Regions from separate parts of the Homo sapiens genome. Here region 1 is linked to region 2. The links come from fine-mapping of genetic effects on gene expression. Tissue or cell type: whole blood. Region 2 holds a variant in brackets; the other region holds the start of a gene. All regions are shown on one strand. Distances are between the middles of the regions.

The links. PIP is the estimated chance that this variant, and not a neighbour inherited with it, causes the effect.
Region 1: EXOSC10 starts here. The variant in region 2 is fine-mapped to the expression of EXOSC10 in whole blood (TOPMed, PIP 0.97).

What each region holds. Positions count from the first base shown.
Region 1 is chr1:11,098,646-11,101,326 of GRCh38, reverse strand. EXOSC10 (exosome component 10) reads left to right here and starts at 1,458. Exons shown (of 25, transcript NM_001001998.3): 1 at 1,458-1,606. The coding sequence starts at 1,496. EXOSC10-AS1 (EXOSC10 antisense RNA 1) reads right to left here and starts at 1,652. Exons shown (of 2, transcript NR_135062.1): 1 at 1,513-1,652. RefSeq lists enhancers at 1,169-1,729, 2,019-2,078, 1,730-2,292 and a silencer at 1,916-2,117.
Region 2 is chr1:11,046,570-11,049,219 of GRCh38, reverse strand. MASP2 (MBL associated serine protease 2) reads left to right here and starts at 1,981. Exons shown (of 11, transcript NM_006610.4): 1 at 1,981-2,017; 2 at 2,101-2,329; 3 at 2,487-2,650. The coding sequence starts at 2,013. RefSeq lists an enhancer at 2,644-2,650. The variant G/A (reference allele first, on the strand shown) is at 1,668.

The sequences.
Region 1 (2,681 bases), 52 kb before region 2:
AAAAATACAAAAAAAAAAAAAAAATTAGCCGGGCATTGTGGCACACGCCTGTAATCCCAGCTACTTGAACCTAGGAAGCGGAGGTTGCAGTGAGCTGAGATTGCACCACTGCACTCCAGCCTGGGCAGCAGAGTGAGACTCTGTCTCAAAAAAAAAAAATAAACAGGGCAGGCACGGTGGCTCCGCCTGTAATCCCAGCACTCTGGGAGGTCGAGGCGGGAGGATCACAAGGTGAGGAGTTCGAGACCAGCCTGGCCAATATGGTGAAACCCCGTTTCTACTAAAAATACGAAAAAAATTAGCCGAGCGTGGTGGTGCACGCCTGTAATCCCAGCTACTCGGGAGGCTGAGGCAAGAGAATTCGTTGAACCCGGGAGGCGGGAGGTTGCAGTGAGCCAAGATTGCGTCACTGCACTCCAGCCTGGGCAACAGAGTGAGACTCCATCTCAAAAAAAATAAAAATAAAAATAGGCTGCACGCTGATGACTCGTATCTGTAATCCCAGCACTTTGGGAGAGCAAGAGTGAAACTTTGTCCCAAAAACATGGTTTTTTTTGTTTGTTTGTGACAAGGTCTCACTCTGTTGCCCAGGCTGGAATGCAGTGGTTCGATCTCGGCTCACTGTAACCTCCACCTCCCGGGCTCAAGCCTCAGCCTCCCGAGTAGCTGGGATTACAGGCATGTGCCACCACGCCCGACTAATTTTTGTGTTTTTAGTATAGACAGAGTTTCACCATGTTGGCCAGGCTGGTCTCCAACTCCCGACCTCAGGTGATCCACCCGCCTCGGCCTCCTAAAGTGCTGGGATTACAGGTGTGAGTCACGGCGCCCAGCCTCAAAAACATAACCTTAAAAAGAAATTTTTGAGACAGGGTTTCATCCTGTCACCCCGGCTGGAGTGCAGTGGAGCCTCCACCTCCTCGGCTCAAGCAACCATCCCACCTCAGCCTCCCGAGCAGCTGGGACTACAGATGCGCACCACCACTCCCGGTAATCCCGGTTTGTTTGTTTTTTAAATTTTTAAATAAACACGAGGATAAGCGGGGATCGTGGCCCTCGCCTGGGGTCCCTGCTACTTCGCAGGCTAAGGTGGGAGGATCTCTTGAGCCCAAGAGTTCGAAACCAGATTGGGCAAACCTCGTGTCAAAAATATATGTGATAGTCAGGTCCTCCAGGCCGCACCCTAGATCACAGGGTTGTTGGGATGATACAATATGAGGTAAAAGAACGTGAAATTCACACCAGAGCGCTCGAAAGTGCCACCCTAATCGCAGGCTTCCCAACCTAATCGCAGGCTTCCCAACCTAATCGCAGGTGCCCCACCCTAAACGCAGGCTTCCCAACCTAATCGCAGGCGCCCCACCCCAATCGCAGGCTCCCCACACTATAATCAGACGCCCCGCCCGCCGCTTCGACCTGGCGCATGCGTGGTGCGCACGCGTCCCGTCTCCTCGGCCGACAAGCTCTCGCGAGACGAGCCGTGCAGGCTGAAAAAATGGCGCCACCCAGTACCCGGGAGCCCAGGGTCCTGTCGGCGACCAGCGCAACCAAATCCGACGGAGAGATGGTGCTGCCAGGCTTCCCGGACGCCGACAGCTTTGTGAAGGTGAGTTCGCGGGGCCTCGGGGGTACCAGGAGTCGCCCGCGGCCGCCGGAAGCCGACTGGGCCCTCTGGGCAGCCAATGCCCGCCCGCCGTAGTGGAGCCCGAGCGAGGGTCGCGGGGCCCCTGTCCGCGCTGGGCGCAGACTCTCCTGCACCCTCCGGGGATGGGGCCTCGGAAACGGACACTGAGGGGCGTCCCGCTTGCGAGCCTAAGTCCATGGAGGCCCAAATGTGGAAAGCCGTCTCGCATCCTGGGAAAGGCTTCCTTGCCACCCAGACGTCCCTAGCCCTTGCGACGTCGCGCTCGCCACGCCCTAGCCACCCGACCAGCTCTCCGCAGGGGCTCGGCTTCTTCGCGCTCCCCACACTTGCCTGGAGTTGTCTCCTCCCGCGGCCAGTATGGCCCTTCTCTTCCTCTGTTTCTGAAGTCCAGTCCTACATAATTTTTAACCCTGAGTTAAATGTCACCTGTTAAAGCCCCATTGCACGTTTATTAGTAACTCCTGGAAGGTATACAGGGCGTTCACTTAAGATCTTTGTATAACTTAGCTTAAATATGAGCAAACGTACAACTAGGCTTAAGGTGTGCATAGCTCTTACAAAGCAATGAAACTAAAATAATTTGTAAATTAACCCTATAAATTTACAGAAATTCCACTAACGTTGTATCTTATCTAATTTGCTGTTAGCTAATGCTATTGATTCATTAACATGGCTCTCAATAGTTCCTGGACCACTAACTGTGGTCCTGGTTGTGTGGCGGTCATGCTCATAAGCTACCATGTTCCCCTCCGTGACTTAATTTCCCACCTCCTTTCTCTGCTTTTTTCTTGGGAAATGTTTATTCACAAAACTCACAATGACGTTTTAGGCCTTCACATGATCAGCCATCATTTATGTCACTTCACGGCTTTTTTTCGTTACCTCACAACAGTTAAAATAGAGAACCACTTGACACTAACTGAACAATAAACACAAATCCAGTTTTAGATAGTAGCTGTTATAAATTTGTCGTCCAAGGATCTAGGATAAGCTTGTATTGTTTTTAGATGCTCATCCAGATGAAAACACAAAAACA
Region 2 (2,650 bases):
CAGGCACGCAACACCATGCCCAGCTAAGTTTTGTATTTTTAGTAGAGATGAGGTTTAACTCCAAAATAATTCTTTTTCCTGATCTTTTGCATGTGATTTACTATTTGATTTTTCTCTTTCTCTTTGTTTGTAAAACATAATTATTCTCTCCAGTGTTTTTAAATATGTGTAAAGCTGTATTAATATTTTTATCTCCTTTTCTGGGCACTTGGGGCACACTTTCGATCAGTATCACGTTCTTCAGTTCTGGGAAATTTTCTTGCATTATTATTATTGCTATGTATGTATTTTTTGAGACAAAATCTTACTCTGTCACCCAGGCTGGAGTTCAATGGCATGAACATGGCTCACTGCAACCTTGAGACCTCCTGGGCTCAAGCGATTGTCCCATCTCAGCCTGCCAAGTAGCTGGGACTAAAGGTGCATGCCACCATGCCTGGCTAATTTAAAAAAATTTTTTTTTTTTTTAGAGACAAGGTCTTGCTATGTTGCCCAAGCTGGTCTTGAACTCCCGGTCTCAGGCGACCCACCTGCCTCAGCCTCCCAGCCTCCTGGGATTATGGGCAGGAGTCACTACACCCAGCCAGAGTCCCGGTCTCTAAAAGAAAATAGGCCAGGCATGGTGGCTCACGCCTGTAATCCCAGCACTTTGGGAGGCTGAGGCGGGTGGATCACCTGTGGTTGGGAGTTCGAGACCAGCCTGACCAACATGGAGAAACTCCGTCTCTACTAAAAATACAAAACTAGCCGGACGTGGTGGCGCATGCCTGTAATCCCAGCTACTCGGGAGGCTGAGGCAGGAGAATTGCTCGAACCCCGGAGGCAGAGGTTTGGTGGCTCACACCTGTAATCCCAGCACTTTGCGAGGCTGAGGCAGGTGCATCGCTTTGGCTCAGGAGTTCAAGACCAGCCTGGGCAACACAGGGAGACCCCCATCTCTACAAAAAACAAAAACAAATATAAAGGGGATAAAAAAAAAAAAAAGACAAGACATGAATCCATGAGGACAGAGTGTGGAAGAGGAAGCAGCAGCCTCAAAGTTCTGGAAGCTGGAAGAACAGATAAACAGGTGTGAAATAACTGCCTGGAAAGCAACTTCTTTTTTTTTTTTTTTTTTTTTGAGGTGGAGTCTCACTCTGTCGTCCAGGCTGGAGTGCAGTGGTGCGATCTCGGATCACTGCAACCTCCGCCTCCCAGGCTCAAGCAATTCTCCTGCCTCAGCCTCCCGAGTAGCTGGGATTATAAGTGCGCGCTGCCACACCTGGATGATTTTTGTATTTTTAGTAGAGATGGGATTTCACCATGTTGGTCAGGCTGGTCTCAAACTCCCAACCTCGTGATCCACCCACCTTGGCCTCCCAAAGTGCTGGGATTACAGGTATAAGCCACCGAGCCCAGCCAAAAGCGACTTCTAAGCCTGCAAGGGAATCGGGAATTGGTGGCACCAGGTCCTTCTGACAGGGTTTAAGAAATTAGCCAGCCTGAGGCTGGGCACGGTGGCTCACACCTGTAATCCCAGCACTTTGGGAGGCTAAGGCAGGTGGATCACCTGAGGGCAGGAGTTCAAGACCAGCCTGACCAACATGGAGAAACCCCATCCCTACCAAAAATAAAAAATTAGCCAGGTGTGGTGGTGCTCGCCTGTAATCCCAGCTACTTGGGAGGCT[G/A]AGGTGGGAGGATTGCTTGAACACAGGAAGTAGAGGCTGCAGTGAGCTATGATTGCAGCACTGCACTGAAGCCGGGGCAACAGAACAAGATCCAAAAAAAAGGGAGGGGTGAGGGGCAGAGCCAGGATTTGTTTCCAGGCTGTTGTTACCTAGGTCCGACTCCTGGCTCCCAGAGCAGCCTGTCCTGCCTGCCTGGAACTCTGAGCAGGCTGGAGTCATGGAGTCGATTCCCAGAATCCCAGAGTCAGGGAGGCTGGGGGCAGGGGCAGGTCACTGGACAAACAGATCAAAGGTGAGACCAGCGTAGGGCTGCAGACCAGGCCAGGCCAGCTGGACGGGCACACCATGAGGTAGGTGGGCGCCCACAGCCTCCCTGCAGGGTGTGGGGTGGGAGCACAGGCCTGGGCCCTCACCGCCCCTGCCCTGCCCATAGGCTGCTGACCCTCCTGGGCCTTCTGTGTGGCTCGGTGGCCACCCCCTTGGGCCCGAAGTGGCCTGAACCTGTGTTCGGGCGCCTGGCATCCCCCGGCTTTCCAGGGGAGTATGCCAATGACCAGGAGCGGCGCTGGACCCTGACTGCACCCCCCGGCTACCGCCTGCGCCTCTACTTCACCCACTTCGACCTGGAGCTCTCCCACCTCTGCGAGTACGACTTCGTCAAGGTGCCGTCAGGACGGGAGGGCTGGGGTTTCTCAGGGTCGGGGGGTCCCCAAGGAGTAGCCAGGGTTCAGGGACACCTGGGAGCAGGGGCCAGGCTTGGCCAGGAGGGAGATCAGGCCTGGGTCTTGCCTTCACTCCCTGTGACACCTGACCCCACAGCTGAGCTCGGGGGCCAAGGTGCTGGCCACGCTGTGCGGGCAGGAGAGCACAGACACGGAGCGGGCCCCTGGCAAGGACACTTTCTACTCGCTGGGCTCCAGCCTGGACATTACCTTCCGCTCCGACTACTCCAACGAGAAGCCGTTCACGGGGTTCGAGGCCTT